Regions from separate parts of the Homo sapiens genome. Here all the other regions are linked to region 2. Evidence: fine-mapped expression QTL. A gene starts in region 2. Each other region holds a variant in brackets. All regions are shown on one strand. Distances are between the middles of the regions. Region 1 holds the start of PDLIM2 (PDZ and LIM domain 2). Region 2 holds the start of SORBS3 (sorbin and SH3 domain containing 3). Region 3 overlaps PPP3CC (protein phosphatase 3 catalytic subunit gamma). Region 4 overlaps SORBS3 (sorbin and SH3 domain containing 3).

Evidence for each region. PIP is the estimated chance that this variant, and not a neighbour inherited with it, causes the effect. A credible set is the group of variants that fine-mapping cannot tell apart.
Region 1: its variant is the best candidate, but not a certain one, in a credible set for the expression of SORBS3 in breast (GTEx, PIP 0.80).
Region 3: its variant is the best candidate, but not a certain one, in a credible set for the expression of SORBS3 in whole blood (TOPMed, PIP 0.88).
Region 4: its variant is the best candidate, but not a certain one, in a credible set for the expression of SORBS3 in adrenal gland (GTEx, PIP 0.80).

What each region holds. Positions count from the first base shown.
Region 1 is chr8:22,579,242-22,583,880 of GRCh38, forward strand. PDLIM2 (PDZ and LIM domain 2) reads left to right here and starts at 1,234. Exons shown (of 9, transcript NM_001368120.1): 1 at 1,234-1,456; 2 at 2,138-2,289. The coding sequence starts at 1,364. RefSeq lists silencers at 21-90, 191-280, 291-450, 1,181-1,270, 2,835-3,129 and an enhancer at 2,468-3,160. The variant C/G (reference allele first, on the strand shown) is at 2,105.
Region 2 is chr8:22,548,842-22,554,337 of GRCh38, forward strand. It overlaps SORBS3 (sorbin and SH3 domain containing 3), which reads left to right and starts at 3,086. Exons shown (of 21, transcript NM_005775.5): 1 at 3,086-3,181. LOC124901905 (a long non-coding RNA gene) reads right to left here and starts at 5,284. Exons shown (of 2, transcript XR_007060851.1): 1 at 3,321-5,284. RefSeq lists enhancers at 225-725, 2,051-3,015, 3,239-4,116, 3,924-3,973, 4,117-4,992 and 1 more and silencers at 2,404-2,533, 2,844-3,023, 3,174-3,253.
Region 3 is chr8:22,484,956-22,490,451 of GRCh38, forward strand. All of the region lies in intron 3 of PPP3CC (protein phosphatase 3 catalytic subunit gamma), which reads left to right. The region is part of intron 1 of LOC124901905 (a long non-coding RNA gene); the gene reads right to left. Among named protein-coding and RNA genes, the nearest start is that of PPP3CC, 47 kb to the left of the region's middle. The variant G/A (reference allele first, on the strand shown) is at 2,531.
Region 4 is chr8:22,570,871-22,576,366 of GRCh38, forward strand. It overlaps SORBS3 (sorbin and SH3 domain containing 3), which reads left to right. Exons shown (of 21, transcript NM_005775.5): 18 at 40-351; 19 at 848-951; 20 at 1,470-1,576; 21 at 3,797-4,918. The coding sequence ends at 3,858. Among named protein-coding and RNA genes, the nearest start is that of PDLIM2, 6.9 kb to the right of the region's middle. RefSeq lists enhancers at 1,010-1,701, 1,702-2,392, 3,458-4,176 and a silencer at 3,566-3,715. The variant C/G (reference allele first, on the strand shown) is at 3,205.

The DNA of each region.
Region 1 (4,639 bases), 30 kb after region 2:
CGCCTCTCCGCGCGGCCCGCCCTCCCCGGCGCCGGGCTCCTCTCCGCGCCCCTGTCGGCGCGGAACCCTGGCCTCGTCCGCGGCCCAGCTCCCTGGAGCCTCGCATCAGCGGGGGCGCCCCCGCGAGCTGCGCTCTCCCCGGCCGGAGCGCTCCTCCTCCAGCCCCCAGCCCGCAGGGTACTTTGCCCTCGGAGCGAAGGAGGCTCCAGAACTGGTAGAGCCGGGCCATCGGGCTGGGCACCTCCCCGCGGCGCCCGCAGCGCGGAGTCCACTGACCGGCTCAAAGGTCTGGGAATCTCGGGGCGGCCGCGAGCCGGCCTCGGGGACTGGGGTGGGGGCGGTGCTGGGAACAGAGGCTAGGCCTGGGCCCAAGGGGAAGGCAGCCGGGGATGGAGCGGACAGACCGCTGGTGCTCTTGATAGATTCTCGCAGCACTTGCGTCCCCAGGGCAGCCCCAGGATGGGTGCTGGGCAGGGTGGTGCCCAGCCTGGCACCGCGGCTTCCTGCCTGGATTGGCTCCTGGCTCCAGAGCTAGAGGCTCAGGAAATCCCACAGGGGTCTGTCTGCAAGGGCACTTCCTTGCCCAGCGGAGGGGCTGTGGATGGGAGGCCTGTCACCCCGGCTGTCTGTCGGGCAGCATCAGGAATCTGGGGGTGGGTGTGTCCAGCTTGACAGATGAACCCTGGCCTCCTTGCCCTGGCAGCCGGCCCCTGGGGGAGGTGGGGAGCCCGGTCTTGCCCGTGTGATCCACTTTGCCAAGAACGAGGTGGGCAGCTAGGAGGCCCATGTGAAGACTCGGCCTCACCCCACCAGTCCTTCACCTGGCCAGTGACTTACACAGTCTGTACTGGTGCCAGCCTGTTCCTTGACCCGTCACTCCTGCTTCCTGAGCCCTGCTCTCCCTAGGCCACTCACCAGCCCTCCCCCAGAGTGGAGAGGAAGTACCGTGTGCTGTGGGTTTTGGGGACAGGAAGCAAGCGCTAGTGGGACTGAGCCCTGATGGTGGAGGAGGGGAGACTGAGGGGGTGCTGGCATCCCCTCCACTTGCCAGCCCCTGCCCCCCATGCTCCAGCAAGCCCCCTGCCTGGCAGCCTGGGCAGCCCCCTCCTGGGAGTCGCTCCCTGGGCTGAAGACTAAGGAAGGGAGAACCCAGAAGCATGGCTTCCCAGGGTGGGGGGAAGTGAAACCGGGCTGAGGGAGGGAGTTAGCCACTTCCTCTACCCACCCCAAAGCCCCTGAGTAGCTGCTCCGGGAGCTGTGGTGCCCTCTCCTTCTCCCTTTGGCTCCTCTCCTGCTGCCTTACAGTGCCCCCAGAGCCGGCTAGGGGCATGGACTTCACCTCCTGGTCCTCTCTTCCTCAGGTATGGCGTTGACGGTGGATGTGGCCGGGCCAGCGCCCTGGGGCTTCCGTATCACAGGGGGCAGGGATTTCCACACGCCCATCATGGTGACTAAGGTAAGGATGGTGGCTCAAAGAGATGAGAAGGTCCTGCCAGAAGCGAGGTCGGCCCTGTTCACCCCACTCTGCACAGATGGCTTGCTTTTTCTGTTCTGGAGCTAGGGATCTGCTGCTGCCTGGCGTGCTGGCTGTAAGGGAGCCGTGGCCCTTTGCCACGGGGATGTGGTGGCCACTTCAGGAACAGACCTTGGGAGTGAAAGGGAGCTGGGACCAGGACAGGGCCGGCTCTTGCCTCCCCAGTTGCTATCCCCACACTTGCAGGCAGCCATTTGGGGTGATTACTAGAACAAGAGCCCCGGAGTTCTTGGCAGTCTCCTCTTGACCTGGGCCCAGGCTGGGAACATTCACAGGAGGGCTGTGCAGGCAGCCACCTGCAAGGTGCGATTTGCACGGGCAAGGCTCTCTATCCAAAAGTATTTCCAAGCACAGTTCCTGAAATTCTGCCACTGCACATTCTTTGGGAGGCCCATTAGAATGCCAGTGTGGGGTGGGGGCTGCCACCTGCGCTCCTGGAGGGGATGGCTGATCAGCTGGGTGTCATGAGCAGGCAGAGGGACATGCAGGAGGGTGCAGGCCGGCCTGGGTCAAGCCAGCCTCTGTGTTTCTTGGGTAGCAGAGTGGGAAGTCCCTTCTCCAGCTGGGCCA[C/G]GGTCTGAGCATGCCAGCTCCTCATCCCTACAGGTGGCCGAGCGGGGCAAAGCCAAGGACGCTGACCTCCGGCCTGGAGACATAATCGTGGCCATCAACGGGGAAAGCGCGGAGGGCATGCTGCATGCCGAGGCCCAGAGCAAGATCCGCCAGAGCCCCTCGCCCCTGCGGCTGCAGCTGGACCGGTAGGGCCTCCCGCTCTGCAGAGCCTGTGGCATTCCCCCTCCTCCACCACCCCACGTATTGAGCAGCCCTTGCTCCTGCCCATGGGCTAGAGCTCAGCCCTAAAGCGGCCTTCTTGGGCCCTCTCCACACCTTGGTGAGAAGGTCCTGGGCTCTGCTTCCTGCAGCAGGGTGGGCTGAGGGGTGTTCCCATGCCTGGTTGGGTAAAGGTGGGCGCCAGGCTGGGCGTGCAGTCACAGGCTGGGCAGGGCGAGCTGGCACCAGCCACCTTGAAGCCCGGGTTTGACTGGTTCCCAAGAGTGTGCAGGGCACAGGGCGTGGGCATGAAGTGGGTTGAAGAGGGGAACCTTCTGGGAAAGGTATGCCCGAGGCTGCATCCCCAGGACTCCTGCTTCCAACAGGGCATGGCCTTTGTTTAGTTCCCAGCTGGAAGTGAGGACTTGGGGGGCTCATTCCTCATAGAGGCTGTCTGTTCCTCCCCATCACTGAAGGCAGATGCCCGATCCTGGGTTACTCCTAGGGTTTTGAGCCTATAAGCCAAGGTGGGGCCAGGGTGGGGCCTGGAGGCCAAGCTATAGGGGGAACAGGTGGCTCCCTGGGGTGGGGCATTGCAGTGAGTCACAGATCGGGAATGCCAGGAGATCCCCGAGCCAGGAGAGCCCTCTGCACGGGCCTAGAACCTGAGTCAGACACCTCTTGCATCCTGGCCACCCCCACATTGTCCTGCTCTCTTCAGCCCTACCAAGCCCCTCCTTCTCCAACTGCCCTGCCCTGTGGTGTGGCAGAAGCCGGCTCCCTTCATGTCATTCAGGTCCCTGGGTGTTTGCAGGAGCGGGACCCCAAGAAGGAGGGTAGAGAGCACCTCATGGCATCTGGGAATGGGGCAGAAAGCTACAGGAGGCTGAGGGTCTGGCAGCGGAAGGGCAGGAGCCTCGGACTGTCTCTTCCTCTGGGGTTCTCTGGAGGGACCAGGGCTCGGGGGAGGTAGGCCTGGGCTGTAAGTCAGGCCTCTGGTTCTGCACCAGGCAAGCCCAGACTCCAGTCTCTTAATTTTTTTTTTTTTTTTTTTTTTGAGACAGAGTCTCGCTCTGTTGCCAGGCTGGAGTGCAGTAGCGTGATCTCGGCTCACTGCCACCTCTGCCTCCCGGGTTCAAGAGAGTCTCCTGACTCAGCCTCCTGAGTACCTGGGACTACAGGCGCGTGCCACCACGCCCAGCTAATTTTTGTATTTTTAGTAGAGATGGGGTTTCACCACGTTGGCCAGGATGGTCTCGATCTCCTGACCTCGTGATCCACTTGCCTCAGCCTCCCAAAGTGCTGGGATTACAGGTATTACACCGCGCCCGGCCCAGTCTCCTTACTTTTGCTGACGTGATGCCCACCCCCCCCCCCGCCCCCATCTCCCGCCTCCTACCCTCCCAGGTGACCTCTCTGGTATTCAGAAGCCCTGGGGCAGGAAGCAGGGCTCCAGGCTGGAGCCAGAGACTGAGCTCTCCTCACCCTGATCCCATGGCTCTCCCAGGAAGCGGAGGGTCCTGTTGCCCTACATCTCTAGAGGCAGCCTCACGGCCAGGAATGTGTGGCAAGATGGGACGAGGCAGGCTGTCCCTCAGCCCAGACTTCAGTTACCTCCCATTCAGGGCTCCAGCTGGGTTCCACTTTGGAAGAGGGTACCCAGGGAGCTGGGAGGGCGTGCCCCTCTCGCTGGTGGGGAGCTGGGCCTACTTGTCTGGAAGGAGGCAGGCGGGTCTCGCCCTTTGTTTAACTGGGGAGACCCCTGAGAAAGGGATCAGGAGTGACGCGCTCAAAGGCACCCTGGCCTCCAGTGGGCAGGGTGCACAGCTGGCCCAGTCACCGTGGGCTCTAGAACTTGAGGCAGCTCACTTTCCCTCTCTGGGTTTCAGTTTCTCCATGGGTTAAAATATAAAGGATTATTTCTATGAAATCAGTAATCAGGCCGGGCGCAGTGGCTCACACCTGTAATTTCAGCATTTTGGGAGGCCGAGTCGGGCGGATCACCTGAGGTCAGGAGTTCAAGACCAGCCTGGCCAATACGGCGAAACCCCGTCTCTACTGAAAATACAAAAATTAGCCGGGCATGCTAGTGGGCACCTGTAGTCCCAGCTACCTGGGGGGCTGAGGCAGGGAGAATTGCTTGAACCCAGGAGGTGGAGGTTGCAGTGAGCCGAGATTGCACCACTGCGCTCCAGCCTGGGTGACAGAGCGAGACTCCATCTCAAAAAACAAAAAAATCAGTAATCTTCCCCCAAATCAATCTACAAACCCGAGGCTGAGTGATATCAGTGACAAAGTCCAGGCAAAATAGAAAAAAAAAAAAAAAAAAAAAAAAAA
Region 2 (5,496 bases):
TTCAGTGCTCTTTCCCCTCATTTGTCATCCTTGGTGACAGAGATTGCTTTTCAGAGTGACCCGCATTCCACCGCCTTCTCCCCCTCCCTGTGAAGAGCCACATTTACTGGTAGTCCCGTGGCTAATCCTCCCCTGCAGGGGGGTGGGGGTTGTGGACAGACCCCTGTTGACGGTGATGTTGGGGACTACCCACAGAACAAAAGGTGCAGCCTCAAGGGCTTGAGCGGGGAATACTGATGCCTGGGATCAGGTAGCTGGGAAAACAGGGCAGTTATGTAACTGTGTTTACTGTGGCTCAGGTGGCTCTGAGAAGGCAGAGGCAGCCCCTGACAAAGGGCAGTGCCAGAGGTGGGGAAGCCGCGACTTGCAGGGAGGGAGGCCCCTCTTAGACAGGGGAGTCGTGCATGCAAAGGAGAGAGTGCAGTGGGATTTGGAAAGGAAAGGAATCTGTTCTGTTGTTGACAGCCAGCCGGCCAGCCGCCTTATCTAGGACAATCTTCCCAGCCTCAGCCTCTCCCTAACCGTGCCAGCTGTGGAGGCAGCAAGGGGAGCTGACGCTAGAGGGAGGCGTCGGGAAATCAGACACCTGGTTCCTGGCTCAATCTCCAAACCCTGCTACTTTTCCCCCCTTAATCTACTTTTCAAAGAGAAGGAATTCTTCTCTTTAGATAAGGGCAGAAAGGGAGGAATCAGTCAAATTTCCTTATGTTTTCCCTGCCCTGTGGCCCACTGTCTCCCATCCTCTCGGCTGTGAGGCCAGATGGGCACCACGGAACATGGTGGATTCTGACCTGAGAGAGGTGATAAACCCGGCAGAGCCCAGGCCTAAGTAGACAGGCAGAAGTCAAAGCGGCTCAGGAAGAAAGCTCAGGTCTCCCGTAGACCTACCCCGCCTCCTCCTGCAAAGCTGTTTACTCAACGCCCGATTCCCATAGAGATGAAACTGGTAGCCAGTCCCCAGCTCCTTACCCATGGCTGCCACCTCCCTTTGTGAGAAACAGGAAGTGGGGAACTTTGTCAGCTCTGCTGCACCCTCTACACTAAATATTTATCTTGGAGTCCAGGTCAGAGCCCTAGAGAATAAGAGAAGCTTGCTGCTGGTGAGGGGGTATGGCCAGGATTCCTGGAGTCGGAAGAGCTTCAGCTTCACCATCTTGGGAGAAGAAGGAAGAAAGTGAAAGCGATGTGGTCCTTCTTAGTCCCAAGGACCCTGACAGGTGGGAAAAATGCGTGTCTAAGAAAATGGGCACCTATTTTATCCCTGAGGGAGGGAAGAGGCTACCTGGCGTGGATAAGAAGGTTTCTAAGCTTCAGGTTGGGGGGCAGTGCACTGCTGCGTCCCTCAAGAAGTGTCCCAGGGTTCCCCCACTGCTCAGCTGTCCTCCACAGCAATGCCCCTGCCATCCCCATCTCTCCGCCTTCCTGGAGAGTCAGAGGTTCTTGGAAGGAGTCTTCAAGGTCATCTTGTTCAGCTCCCCGCTCAGTGCAACAGTTGCCTTTACATAGATGCCCCACAACTGGCAGACTCAGAACCCCTGGAATCATGTAAAAATTTGTCCTGGGAAGCCTTGGACCTGCTTCCCTATGACGTGTCCCCCAGTGGTCCCACTGCTGCTGGTGCAGCTGTGTGTCCACATGGCAGCCCCGCAGGCGCTAGAGGCCAGCAGGCCTATCTGAAGCTTCTCAACCCAAACATCTCCTCCAGCTTTCACATGTGATGTTTCAAGGCAACGGGGAGAGCTTCTTTACCAGAACGAGGGAGAAGATAAGACTAAAGCAGTAATGGTGGTAGGGACTGAAAATCACTTAGTCTTTTCTCTACTCTCTTTCTTTCCAAACTTTGAGTTGAGTGGTGAGCTTGGAAAACACTCCAAAACTCCTCGTGGCCTCTGGCACCAGTCTGACACCCAGTAGGAATGCAGGAGATTACGTTAGTTTTCATAATTTAGCATTGATCACTCCCAGCTCGTAGCTAAAGTTGATCAGTAACTGTTGGTTGGTTGGCTGGTTTGGGGCTTGGGGATCCCTGAGCCAACTCAAGGGCCAGAAAGGATTCCAGAGTGTTTCCACGGTCCTTCAATGTTCCTTAAGCATTCCCACTTTCTGAAGTGCCATACAGAGGCTTGGGGCAGAGACAGGGAGAGGGGATGACCAGAATGGATGGGGAGCCGGAAGGGCCGGGGCTCTGGGGACCCAGCTCAGAGCAGCGAGAACAGCGGAAAAGCAGGCAGATCAAAACAAACACAGTGTCTGGGAACACCAAGACCCTCCTAATCCCATCCCCGCCAAAGGGACCCCACCCTTATCCTCTTTAGGGGCGCGGCACGCCCGGGGGGGCCGCTCCCTTGGGCTGATTTCCTCCCTGTGCTTGCACGTGTGTGAGCGTCCCCACGTTTGCAGTGTACGCGCGCGTGTTTGTTTGCACACGACCGGCCGCGCGCCGCCGCAGGCACACCCTCTCCCCCAGCGCGGAGGGGCGGCGGGGCCTTCCCCTGGTCCGCTCCGCCACTCTGCCTGCGGGGCGCCCTCATCTCGCTCCCGGCCTGTCCGTCTCTCCCGGCTTGCCCAGTTCACCACTCCTGCCCCCTTGTCCTGGCTCCGCCCGGTTCATCGCTCCTGCCCCTGTCCTGGCTCCGCTGCGAGGCCGCTCGCTTCCCACACTCTGGAAATGTCGCTGGAAACTCTGAGTGGCCCGTGTCGGGCCGCCCGACCCCTCCCCGACGCCAGCCCTGCGGTAGGGGCCGGGATGGCAGCTGGGAAACCAGAGAGGGCTCCCCGGGGACCCTCGGCGGCCCCTCCCGGCGCCGCCTCCCCGCCGGCCAGGCCTCCTCGGCAGGGGGCCACCAGTGTCCCCGCGCGCGCCCCGACGGACGGAGAGCACTCGCACGTCCCTCCTCTCCGGCCCAGCCCCGGCCCGCAGTCCAGATCCGAGACCCAAACTCCGCCCGCCCCGCCGCGCGACTCTCACGGTCCGGCCTCCGGCGCGCGCCCCTTCGGCCTCCCTCTTCCTGCGCCGGCGCCCGGCCCGGCCCGGCCCGTCCTGACCCGGTCACGAGGGCCGCGACGGCCCGCGCTTCTCCTTGCCCTTCCTCCTCGAGCGCCCGCGCCAGGCAGCAGCCGGGCAGGGATGCTCCTGCGCTCCCGGGCGGCCTCGGGCCCAGCCACCTGCTCGCCGGGGAAGGTAGGTCCGGGCAAGGAGGGGCGGGGAGTAGGCGAGGCCGGCGGGAGGGATCCGTGCCCAACCCCAGGGAATCGCACCTAGCCCCTCCCCGGGGTCCGCGTCCCAAACTCTGGGAAGTACCTCCCACCAGCCCTCATACCAGAAAAAGCGAAATTCAAGAAAAGCTGTCCTTGTCCACGTGGCCTTGTCGCTGAGAAATACCTGGGAAAGCTCTTAGGGCCAGGCACCCAAGGTCAGGGCAGTGTTCAGAGCAGGGAGGCCAGTGCCCACCCCAGCAGAGCCGCCTCCCCTCTCCCGCTCCAGGGGCCTCTCCCCGCTCCCGGGGCTGGCTGCCTGCCTGGAGGGGAGGTCTGAATTCTGGGAGGACCCCTCCGCTCTCTGCTACATGGGGGACCAGTCCCCAGATGCTGCCCTCTTCCTTGTAAGTCCTCCCTAAGTCTCCTGACCTGGCTGCCAAGAGAAGGACTCGGACCACCCTTCCCTGGAGGTTCCTGTGGTGGGGGGCGACACAAGGGGCAGGGTTGAGAAGGGGCAGATGGGGGCACCAAGGGTAAGCAACCTCTGACTACGGGTCGTGGGGGACCTCCTGCCCTACCCATCCTCCAAGAGAGCAGTTCTCACCGAGCACGAGGTGGGCGGGGAGGTCAGGGAAGGAAGGCGCTGTCAGCTGATGGCCCAGGCGGCAGCTGCTGAGCTGCAATTTGGCCCGAAGCAGTCAGCTGGGCAGGGAGGGGTGCTGCGAGGAGCCGACCAGCTCCAGGTCTCCTGACCTTCCACCCCACCCTGCCTCAACTCCCCCCCGCAAGGGGAGGTGGAGTGTGGGGACTGGGGTGTGTCTGCCTGTTTTGCTTTGGTGGGAGTCCTAATTGGACCCAGCTGGGGAGCTGCTCCTCCTCCAGCCTCAGCCCTCCACTCCCCCCAGTCAGGCATGGGCACAGAAGAGCTGTGTCGCAGCAACTCAAATGTCAGGAGTCCCCACAAACTCAAACCAGAGACAAGGAGCTGCCCCCAGCCTTGGCTACACCCTCGCTAGCCCTGGGCAGGAGCTGGGTCCAGGGGCTGAGTCATCCCAGCCTTATTCTACCTTCATCCCCTCTGGGCCCCCAACTCTTCCACTGCTCACATGACTGCACCTCCCACCACTGTTCAGCTGACACCCCTCTGTACCCACAACCCCCATGCAGCTCATGTGGTCCCTCCGGTGGTCCCCCCAGAAGTCATATTCGCAGCTCTGCACCCAGATTCCAACACACACATACACACAGCTCCTCCCGATGCATTTGCAGCCCTCCCTGAGAGCCCCCAAGGACCCCACAGGCACAGGCAAACCTGATTCCATCCAGTCCTGGGCAGTGGCAGAGCTTGGCTGTTTCTGGTCCAGTCCAGCAGCCAAGACGCGGAGGGATGGACGCCGTAGCACCGTGCTCTGGGTCAAAAAGCCCCCTTGGACACCCCAAACTGGGAGCCCCTTTTTGTCCTCTTGCACCCCCACTCTGGGCTCCCCTCTTGCCCCTCCATTCCCTGGGTGCCTAGGGCTCCCTTCCCCTTCCCCAGCCTTGGGATGAGGCAGAAGAAGCTGGCTGTGGGCAGGCATGGTGCTGCCAGGGAAGACCCTGCACTCACAAAACAGCCTGGAGGGGCGGGAGAAAGTGGAGCCAGGGAGCGCGTGTATGTGCGTGCACATTTGCCCACATGCAGAACACCCCAGGGCACTCAGCACCAACTCTCCATGGGCATGAGCAGGTTCAGCTCTGCCCTCACCCACCGCTTCTGTCTCCACCCACCCGGAGCCCTCTGAGTCCTCATTCTGTGAAGGAGGCCAAAGAAGGGCCCGATGCTCCCTGTGAGCTCGCAAGAGTGGGTCTTGCTGCCTGGAAATGCCCCCGACGCTCCCCTTGGCCCTATTGGGCTTAAGGCCCTGCTGACTGCTTCCTGGAGGGCAGTGGGCGGGTGGCTGAGTAATCCCTTGTGCCCGCAGGCAAGAGATGCCCACACGGCCTGGGGGAGGCAGAGGGAACTGAAACAAAGTCCTGTGTTCCCAGGCCCCCTCTCTGCCGGCTGCCCCACTTCCCCTGCGCCTTCCCTCCGGGGGAGTGGGGAAGCCAGCTGCACCCGTGCAGGGAGAGCCCCACGGGCTCCTGGCCAGCCCCTCCCCTCCTCCTCACCCAAGCTCCCCCTCCCCCACTCCCACCCGGAGCTCCTGCCCTGGGCCTAACAAGTGGTCCATTGTGCCCCTGGGAGCCGGCAGGCACGGGCAGCCTGCAGGCGGGTGCCTGGCGTGGCCTGTTTCCTGGGTCCTTGAGCTAGTACCCAGC
Region 3 (5,496 bases), 64 kb before region 2:
AGTCATTCTTTGAGTCCTGAATCCTTTTTTTTAGCCTCAAAATATCAATGAGATACGCATATCTTATTTGGAGTATATTATTTTCTAACTGTGGTCTTTTAGTTTAAGGAACAACAGACTGTTTGAATGATCCTTACGATGTTTGAACATGTTACCGGCTGGAATCCCAGAAAATATCTTGGCATGCCTTTGAATTTTGAGAGCCCATTTTATTGTGGGTGCTCTGGTTTAATCCCAAATACACAAAAACCAATTAAATATAAGCACTGAATTTGCAAAGGCCAAATAAACGCAAGCACAGATGGGAAAATAAAGTACCCACTTACCAAGAAGGACGATAAGAAGCCTTCTCCAACTGAAAGAAAAAAGAGAGATCCCAAGGCCTCAACCCAAAGGGAAAAATCCCTTCCCTGAGACCCCACAGCCAGGGTCTACAAGGAGGAAAAGAGTCTTCCTTAATAGGAGATCCCTCAGCCAGATCAGACGGGAAGGGGAAAGACACCATCCCATCCAAATCCCAGATAAAACAGAACTCAACCAAAATCGGGAGTTCAGTCCAAGAATGACTCACTAAGGGAAAAAGAGGCAACTTGCAGAAGCCGTTAGAGGAGGGGGTGACTTTCAGAGGTCCCCAGTGTGGCTACCTTGTACTATAGTTCCAATGGCTGCTGATCTTCTCTGAGATGAGTCAGCCTTAGACTCATACTTGACCAAGTATGTCAAAGTCAAATGAAACACAGAGATGAATCTCTGAAATTAAGATGTTTTATTTGTGAAGAAAGAATTGCAATTTAGAGCATGCATGCAGACAGAATGGTATGTCCGAAGAACAAAGAGAAGGTTAGAGGTTTTATGAAAAAGCGAAATGTTATGTGTTGCTCTTTGAGAAAGTTCATTGGCACTAGTAAGGTTCTGGAGAGCTTGCCAGTTTTGATTGGTGAGTGATGGCAGTGGGTAAAATTAGCCTTAGAATTTCAGCAGATCATTTCAGTAGCCATTAGATAAAACTGGTTTCCAGTAATAGCAGGCAGTTTCGGCAGACATGCTTGCAGAGAATTACATTTTTGGGTCAATGTTATATGTCCTGAGTGCTTCCCCCCCGCCCTCTTGACTCTGTTTTAGTTGGGTATGACAGGAATAACCCAGTTCATATGATCAACTTTCACAGTAGTTAATGATATAAATACCTTAATTTATTTCACCATTCCTCTACTGTTGGAAAAATAGGTTTATAGCAGGTCATGCTATTGCATACATTTTCCCTCTGTCTTCCTTACAAACAATATCTCTATTTTATTCAGATAGATGGGATTGGGGTTGCAGGGAGAAGCTTTGATCTCAGGGAAGGAAGGCCCTTATCCCAGCCCCAGGGAATGAATTCTGGGTGGTCTGAACTACTCAAGCCAATCAATTTCCTGTCACTAATGATTGGTCTAGGGGTAAACACTGGATTTTCTTTTAACCAGTAATATATAAAGGGAACTCTGCTGGGTTTTTGTTTGTTTGTTTGCTTTTGGAAACACTCTTTCTTGATGAAAAGACTATTGCAAGGTTGAAGCTTTTGGACCCCCATTCTACCATTTCACTTCATATGTGGATGTGTGTACTGTAGCAGCCATGCTGTGACTATGAGGAGGTGACATGACTAAGGAGGAAAAGCAGACCTGTGAATCGCTGATCACAGAGGTACAGAGGGCTTGGTTTCTTGGTGAAGATGTTGAACTAGTACACCAAACCTGGACATCTCATCTCCAGACTTGATGTGTTTTTTGTTTTGTTTTTTTTTTTTTTTGGGACGGAGTCTCACTCTGTTGCCCAGGCTGGAGTACAGTGGCACCATCTCGGCTCACTGCAGCCTCTGCCTCCCAGGTTTAAGTGATCCTCCTGCCTCACCCTCCCGAGTAGCTGGGATTACAGGCACCCACCACCACGCCTGGCTAATTTTTGTATTTTTAGTAGAGATGGGGTTTCACCATGTTGGCCAGGCTAGTCTCAAACTCCTGACCTCAGGAGATCTGCCTGCCTCAGCCACCCAAAGTGCTGGGATTACAGGCATGAGCCACCGCGCCCAGCCCAGACTTTGTGTTTTATGAGGTATTTAAATATCTTACACAACAGCAAATTGGATTTGATATCACTTGTATTTAAATGGTACAAAGTTGTCTTCCAATTATTTCCACTCTGCACATTGCTAAAGTTAACATCTTTTTGAATATATCTGTGATGGCATTTCAGATACTTAGATCAGATTCTCACACATGAAGTAACTGATCAAAGAGTAGAACATTTTTAAGACTTCTGCCGCTGATAAAACAAAATAGTAAAGTTTTATTTATCTTTGAGACTTTTGGTGTTCCCTCTTCATTTGTACCTATTACAAAATGCTGGCTGGGCGCCCTGGCTCACACCGGTAATCCTAGCACTTTGGGAGGCCAAGGAGGGTGGGTCACCTGAGGTCAGGAGTTCGAGACCAGCCTGGATGACATGGTAAAACCCTGTCTCTACTAAAAATACAACAAATTAACCAGGC[G/A]TGGTGGCGTGTGCTTGTAGTCCCAGCCACTCAGGAGGCTGAGGCAGGAGAATTGTGTGAACCCTGGTGGCAGAGGTTGCAGTGAGCCTAGATTATGCCACTGCATTCTGGCCTAGGTGACTGAGTGAGACTCTGTCTAAAGAGAAAAAAAAAATAAAAACAAAGTGCTTCCTCTTCCTCTGTGAGAGAAGAAGCTAAATTTTAGTTTCTTTAATTGATTTTGTGAGAAAAGAAAAGATTAAAGGGAACATTTTCAGCAAAGATATACTGTATTAAAAGCACAGAAGCTGCCAAAGAGAAAAATGTTATCAGATGAGCAGGTGATATAAATGTTATTAGATGACCAATTGATGAACAGGTATTGACACATAGAAATGATTCTGGAGGCAGAGTAAAAATTCTGTTCACACAGAAGTAAAAAGTAATTGAGTGGTTGAACAGATCTCTTGATAATCATGACCTTGTAATTGAATTATACAAGACAATTGTACAGTTGCATCCTGATGTATAAAATAAGGAAATAAAACTTGAAATTAGAGGCCAAGAAGCACATCACCAAATGACATTATACTATGGGTGGATTGTGCCTTTATATATCTCGTTACCTCAAAAAGGTGAGTTAGAAGGCACAAATGTATACCCAGATAAATCAAAAGATATATTGTGTTCTTGGTTGGGAAAGGTAGGTATAGAAAAGAGAAGTGCATTCTAAATTTGTATATTGATTTAATATAATTTTTCCTTGGAATATTTTGTGAAAATTGTTATCTTGGTAATGAAATTTAACCCCTCAAAAGAATAAAGCCACACAAGGTTATTTATATGTGTCTACATGTTTAAGCTTTATGATTATTTTGCAATGCCTGTTTCAAAATGTGTATATGCTTTAATGCAACAATTCCATTTTTCAGAACCTATGCTTTAGATGCACTCATAATTACGTACAATGATGTTTGAATTGTTTGTCACAATGATTGAAAGTTTCTTTTGGCATTTGATAAACAGGCTTCAGGGATACAAAATACCCTGCAATGTGTAGGAGACACCTAAACAACAAAGAATGAATGATTCTCAGATTGTCAACAGTGCCTGTGTTAGATTCTGGGGATCTAACAGGGAGATGCACAAGCAAAGTCCTTTACTGTATTTTCTAGTGAGAGGGACAGCATCATGTATTTGTTTACCATCCATGAGAACCAAATCAGAGGAAGGAGCTAAAGCGGGACAGGAGCAGCTAACTTAGATGGAGTGATCAGGGCAGGTTCTTTTGAAGAGGCAATTGTTGAACAGAATGACCTGTGGGAACAAGCTGTGCATAGATCAGGGGAACTACATTCCAGGCAGAGGCACAACCAGTGTAAAAGCTTACAGGCAGAAGCAAGTCTAGGGCAGTCCATGTATAGTAGTGAGGCTATCGAGGCTAGACAGAATAATGAGTAAGGGAGAGATGGAAGAGGTGCAGAGAGTGGGGCAGATAGATGATGTCAGGCCTAGTAAACCATGTCAGTGCATTTGGGTTTTATTCTGAATGTGCTAGGAAGTTATTGGAGGAATTTTTTTTTTTTGAGCAGGGGAGTGACGTATTCACATTTATGTTTTAAAACAATTACTTTGGCTGTTAGAAGGTCAGTTGACTTTTGGAGCCCAAAAGCAGGTGCAGGGAGACCAGTGAGGATTTAATCTAGTAATATAGGTAAGAGATGTCAGTAATTAGATTAGGCATACTGAGAAACATTTGGATTCAGGATTTCAAAGTCTTTCCTTTTTGAGGAGGTGGGAAAGTCTCAGTTGAATTGATCGAGCTCCTCAGGTCATGGCACATTTCTCATCAGTCTTTGCAAAGTCCCTCTTTTTTGTTTTATTCTTTTTGTGCTTATCTGTGATCTCTGAGTTCCTTACTCCCTCTCCCCAGTATACACATGCTTCTACTGTATTTAATATATGATTCAGAATACATCTAATGTATATATGAATGAATGATTCTCAGATTGTCAACAGTGCCTGTGTTAGATTCTAGGGATCTAACATGGAGATGCACAAGCAAAGTCCTTTACTGTATTTTCTAGTGAGAGGTACAGCATATATATATATAACAAATATATATTATATATAATAGTGTATATAATATATAATATATAATAAGTATATATTACATATAATATACAATAAGTATATATTATATATAAGTATATATTATATATAAGTATATATTATATATTATATATAAGTATATATTATATATTATATATATAATAAGTATATATTATATATAAGTATATATTTTATATTATATATATAGTAAGTATATATTATATACATACATAACAAATAAATATATATATATTCACTAATTTGAGATGGAGTCTTGCTCTGTCTCCCAGGCTGGAGTGCAGTGGCACGATCTCAGCTCACTGCAACCTCTGCCTCCCAGGTTCAAGCAATTCTCCTGCCTCAGCCTCTCCAGTAACTGGGATTAGAGGCGCATGCTACCACGCCCAGCAATTTTTTTTTGTATTTTTAGTAGAGACGAGGTTTCACCATGTTAGCCAGGGTGGTCTGGATCTCCTGACCTCGTGATCTACCCACCTTGGCCTCCCAAAGTGCTGGGATTATAGGCGTGAGCTGCCGTGCTGAGCCAATACATCTAATATATTAATTTTTTAATGTATAGAGCTTTTACAGATAAAATATTTTAATTTTACATAAATGATATGGTGCTGTCCAGTGGTCTTGAAATGTTAACATACACCATTATTACCTGGAAAGCTTGTGCAAACAGAGGTTGCAGGACCCTGACCCTGTTTCTGACTCATCAGGCGTGGGGTGGAACCTGGCAATCTGTATTCTGTCGGGTTCCCAGGTGATGCTGTTTACCACACTTTGAGATGAATGTGACCATACTTTGAGAACCACTGTTGTAGTGCTATTTATACTGTTGACTTTTTTCACTTACCACTTTTTTTATA
Region 4 (5,496 bases), 22 kb after region 2:
CCAGGAAGGCCCCACAGACACTGACTTTTCCCCCCTCAGGGAGAGCACATCTGCCTGATCCGCAAGGTGAACGAGAACTGGTACGAGGGACGCATCACGGGCACGGGGCGCCAAGGCATATTCCCTGCCAGCTACGTGCAGGTGTCTCGTGAACCCCGGCTCCGGCTCTGTGACGACGGCCCCCAGCTCCCCACGTCTCCCCGCCTGACCGCTGCCGCCCGCTCAGCCCGTCACCCCAGCTCCCCCTCAGCCCTGCGCAGCCCAGCTGACCCCATCGACTTGGGGGGACAGACCTCCCCCCGTCGCACTGGCTTCTCCTTCCCCACCCAGGAGCCTAGACCCCAGACCCAGGTGAGGTAGCCTGCCTCCACCAGAGAGTCGACCTCCTCCTCACCCCTCATCCCCCACCCCCGTGACTTGTCCACACTTGGGACTCCTTCCCAGACAGCCCTGGGACATAGGAGTGGGGTGACAGGGCAGAAGCTAGTATGGCAGCCCCACCCTGGCCTGGGGGACCTCAACCTACCGAGCTCTAGCCGAGGGAGCTCTAGATGGAATCCCAAAGCCGGCCCAGGCTCCTGACCCTGGGTGTTCTTGGTTCATCCATGCTGGCGTCCAGAAACCCAGGCACTGACCTTACTTGGGCCTCAGTTTTCTGGCCCCTGTGAAATGAAATAGTCACAGCAGGTGTCCCTGTGCCCTGGGGGTTTGGAGGCTAAGATGAAGCCGTTTGTAAGGCGTGCTGGCAGGTGGACTGGGAACGCCCATTTTGGGCCTCCTCCCTCAGGCTTACATGTACCCATCGTCTTCCTCCCTCTGACATCCCTTTCTTCCTGTCAACTCCCAGAATCTTGGCACCCCTGGTCCAGCTCTGTCCCACTCTCGAGGTCCCAGCCATCCCCTGGACCTGGGGACCTCCTCTCCTAACACCTCTCAGATACACTGGACCCCGTGAGTACCATCTGAGGGCTCTTGATCAGACGTGGGGGGGGTCACTGGCAGGCAATGCCCCATATTCCACCCTCCCCCAAGTCCCCACCTGTGGATTTGGGAAACTTCTACCAGGTAGCCCTTGTCCTCGAAGAGCTTATGGTGATTTGGGGCAGGGAGGAGGCGCTGGTCTGTGATGTTCCCAATCCCTCCTGGCAGCTATGTGGCCTTGTGGCCTTGGTCTCCTCATTGGGTTTCTAGCCCTGAGGTCGGTGCATGTATAATTGAAGTGTGGAACTGGTGGAATGGACAGGAAGGCACCAGGTGCTCAGAGGAGGCGAGGGTTCAGTGCTTAGGGCCCAGAGGGCAGGAGGCAGGCCTGGGAAAGACTACGGTGAGCACAGGCTGAGTTGCTCTGAGGAGCTGGATCAGGGGCTAGTGAGAGCATGAAGGGACCCTGGGGCATTCACAGGAAGCGGCAACACTTGGGTTAGAGCCTCTGGGCCCATTCTCTGGTTGCCATGATACGCTTCTCGCAGGTACCGGGCGATGTACCAGTACAGGCCCCAGAACGAAGACGAGCTGGAGCTGCGCGAGGGGGACAGGGTGGATGTCATGCAGCAGTGTGACGATGGCTGGTTTGTGGGTATGTGGGCAGGCCGGGAGGGGGCATCTCAGGGCCCCAGGGGATGTGGGTGGGGTGCTGTTGCCTGCCAGTGCTGCTTCAGCAAAGATTCATGGCCGACCACCCCCCGACTCAGCTTCCGGCCGGGCTACTGGGGGGGCCTGGCACCCGATGCTTCCCCAAAGCCAGCCCTTCTGTTGGCTGCCTTCCTTCATGAAGAGGCCAAGGCCCAGGAGGAAACTGGCACCAGTCCAGGGTCACTGATGGAGTCAGTGGGGACCCAGGCCAGGGTTCCCAACGTCCAGAGCTCTGCCTCTTCCTCCTGCACACCCCTGCCTCGAGCAGCCCTGGGGGAGAGCTCCTGGTGGAAAGGACCAGGGCTCACACTTGACCTAGCTGGCTCCTCCAGCCTGGGAGGAAGAGGGAATGGAGAAAGGTCCCAGCCCCTCAGGGCTGGCCCAAGGGCAGCTCTGACCAAGGACAAATGCAGGAAGCCTCAGGTTGGCCTCAGCCTGAATCAAGGTGACCAACCCACCAGGCTTCACATGGCCTCTTTCCCCAGAGTGGGCGGGCCCTGTGCAGGTCTCATCTTCAAAGGATGGGCCGTCCCCAGAGAGAAGAGAGTGGCCAGAAGCCCCCTGCCCTGCCCCAAGCAGGCTTTGAAGCCTGAGGAGTTGGGGGGCTGCTTGGGCAGCCCCTTGACCTGGCAGCCCACCCTTCCTGATCTGATCCCAGTACAGCTGCCAGCCAGCTGTACTGACCCACCCAGGACCATTAAGCACTAGCCTGTGAATGGCCCCTACCTTCTAGTGGGGGAGGGAGGGAGGCGGTGCTTGGAGATGCATTCAAATTTACTGGATACACTTTTGCTTTGGAATTTTTTTACAACTACTAATAAAGTTTTGCAAACCTATGCAGACAAGAAGAAAAAGTACCACTTTTGTATTAGGAGCCACAAGCGCTTTGAGAGGAATGGGCGAGACCTGTGCCCTTTCCGGTATGGCAGCCACCGGCGGCATTCAGCTGTTGAAATGTAGCTCAAATGAAATAAATTAAAAATCCAGTTCCTCAGTTGCACAGGCACATCTCAAGTGCCCAACAGCCACAGGTGGCGAGTGGTGCCCATTTTAGTTAGTGCAGGTCAGGGAAGGCTTCCTGGAGGAAATGAGGGAGCTGGGCCTGGAAGGGCAGGGGAAGGATTTGGGGAGGCCAAGAGGAAAGGGAGGTACTCGGGGCAGAGGACGAGGGTGGGGGTGGGACGAGCACGGGCTGCCCCCAAGGAAGTCAGGGTGCCAGCCTGGAAGGGGAGGCCCAGGATCATCCATTCACCCAAGGTCAGGAGTGACGTTCATTTCAGTTTATATTCCTATTTTTCTATATATAGGAATATAATAATATTTATTACATTTCTGTATTTCTATATTTCTCCATTCCCTCTTCCTCCCAGGCTGGAGGAACCAGCTGGGGGGTGTGGGGATACACAGGTGTGAGCCCTGGTCCTTTCCACCAGGCGCTCTCCCCAAGGGCTGCTCCAGAGGCAGGGGTGTGCAGGGAAAAGGGGCAGGGCTCTGAAGGTCGGCAACCCCGGCCTGGGTCCCCAGTGACTCCATCAGTGACCCTGGGGTGGTGCCAGTTTCCTCCAGGGCGTC[C/G]TTCTCTTCATGGCACGAAGGAAAGCAGCCAACAGAAGTGCTGGCTTTGGGGAAGCATCGGGTGCCAGGCCCCCCAGATGCTTTGCCCGCTGGGGTTCCCCCCCCTCCTCCTCTTCAAGACACGAGTTTCTGTGGGGCTGAGAGGCCTGGATCGGAGTCCCAAGCTTACTCCTAAGCGTCGGGGTGCTCTCGGGCAATGCATTCAGCCTTCCCATAGGCCTTCCCACCCATCTCTAAGTGAGGGTGCCCTATTAGACCAGGGACGTTTCTCCCGATTTCAGTTCTGTGATTCCTCCTCCTGTGTCCCCACTTTGCGGAGGAGGGGGGGAGTGACTCTGCTGTGTACAGTGTGATGCACATTTGTTGATTGCTCAGATTCTTTGGTGGTTGAGTGTGGGAAGTGTAGCTTTGCCCATCTAAGCTTCTGCCGCTAGGGGGCAGGAAGGAGGAGAGCAAATCCAATTCCCTCTCTGGGCTCCCCTACAGAACTCCCCTACAGTTCTGGGCACTGCCGGCAGGGGGCAGGCCCTCACCCCTGCATCCCTGTTAAAGAAGGGAGTGGGGAAAGCTCTTCCTGCCTTTCCTCTTTCAGGTGTCTCCCGGAGGACCCAGAAATTCGGAACGTTCCCTGGAAATTACGTTGCCCCGGTGTGAGTGGTCTCCATGGCAACTTGGAGCCAGCCAGGATGGGGTGGGGAGCGGTGGCACTCGTGGGAGGGAGAGGACCCCCGCCCACATCCTCCTTCCCCAGGACCTGAGCTCCCAGCATCTGCAGACGACCCCCGCAGCCTTTCCCTCGGACCCCCCTCGAAGCCCCCTGGACTGATTCCCACCCACGACTCACAGGCATTCCTCCCACAGCCCTTTCATTTCCTCCCCACCCCACTCCCCAAATACAGAGGTCTGCTTTGAAGCGGAGACCATTTCCAGGCCTTATTGAGACCAGACCCCAAGTCCCCCACCCCCATCCTGCTCCAGCGTTTCCTCTAACAGGGACCAGCTCTCCGCTTTGCCCCCACGGGGTTCCTCTAACCAGAACCAGCTTCCTAGCCTCGTAGAGACCAAAGGCCGCCCCCGCCTGCTGGGGTTCCTCCCAGCACCCCAGCTTGCTGGCTGCCCTCTTTGCCTTCTGGCCTCCAGCTGGGTGTGGGGGGGCGGAGCAAGGCGGGGGACAGACGCAGCACCTTCTTAGCGATCTAGGCCTGGCAAGAGCTCTGGCCCCAAGGCCTCCTCTTCCCAGGGGCTGCCAAGTCCTGGCCCTGGCCCTGGCATATCACCCCGCACTGTGGGGCCAGGCACCACTAGCCTGGCTCAAATATTCCCCAGGGAGACTGCTGTGTGCTGCCCGCCTGCCTGCTGGCTCTCCCCCAGCCCCACATCCCCTCTGGAAGAGAATGTAAAATAAACCTGGACACAAGGGACCTTGTCTCTGCGGCCTTTTCCTTGGGGTAGGGGATGCCTCCTCCTGTCTAGGAGATGGGAATTCCTTCTGTGGAGGGCTGTGCTGGGAGACAGGTGGGACAGGTGTGTGTGTAAGAGGAGGAGGATGGAAAAACACCATTATTACCTCCAAAGATCTCTGCCCTTGGGTGTCAGGCAGGTTGCGGCAGCCCCCACAATTGGGCAGCTGTGTGGCAAGAAGTGCTGGGAGAATGAACAGTGCCAGGCCCTGGTAGCAGGGAGACACCAGAGATGGGGGACTGAATGTGGCCTTGTTTGCAGACTGTTTTGATTCTGGAGCTGCCACCGTGGGGTTGCTGGGCTAGATGACATTTCTAACTATTCTGCTGTTTTCCTTCTGTGTGCTCTGTTTCCACACCGAAGCCCTTGTGTGTGTGTGTGTGTGTGTGTGTGTGTGTTTATTCTCCTCTTTGGGCTCAGGCTTTTGAGCAATCCTTTGCGGGAAGCTGGGAGTGGTCAAGCACAGCCAGCCAAAACTCCTCTTGAACAAGGGTGTTTTGTTTGTTTGTTTGTTTTTTGTTGTTTTTTTTCTGTGTGAGATGGGGTCTCATTCTTTCGCCCAGGCTGGAGCGCAGTGGCCCGATCTCGGCTCACTGCAGTCTCTGCCTCCCGGCTTCAAGCAATTTTCCCACCTCAGCCTCCTGAGTAGCTGGGATTACAGGGTTGCGGCACCATGCCCAGCTAATTTTTGTATTTTTAGTAGAGATGGGGTTTCACATGTTGGCCAGGCTGGTCTCGAACTCCTGACCTCAGGTGATCCACCCACCTCGGCCTCCCAAAGTGCTGGGATAACAAGCGTGAGCCACCGCGCCCAACCTTGAACAAGGTTTT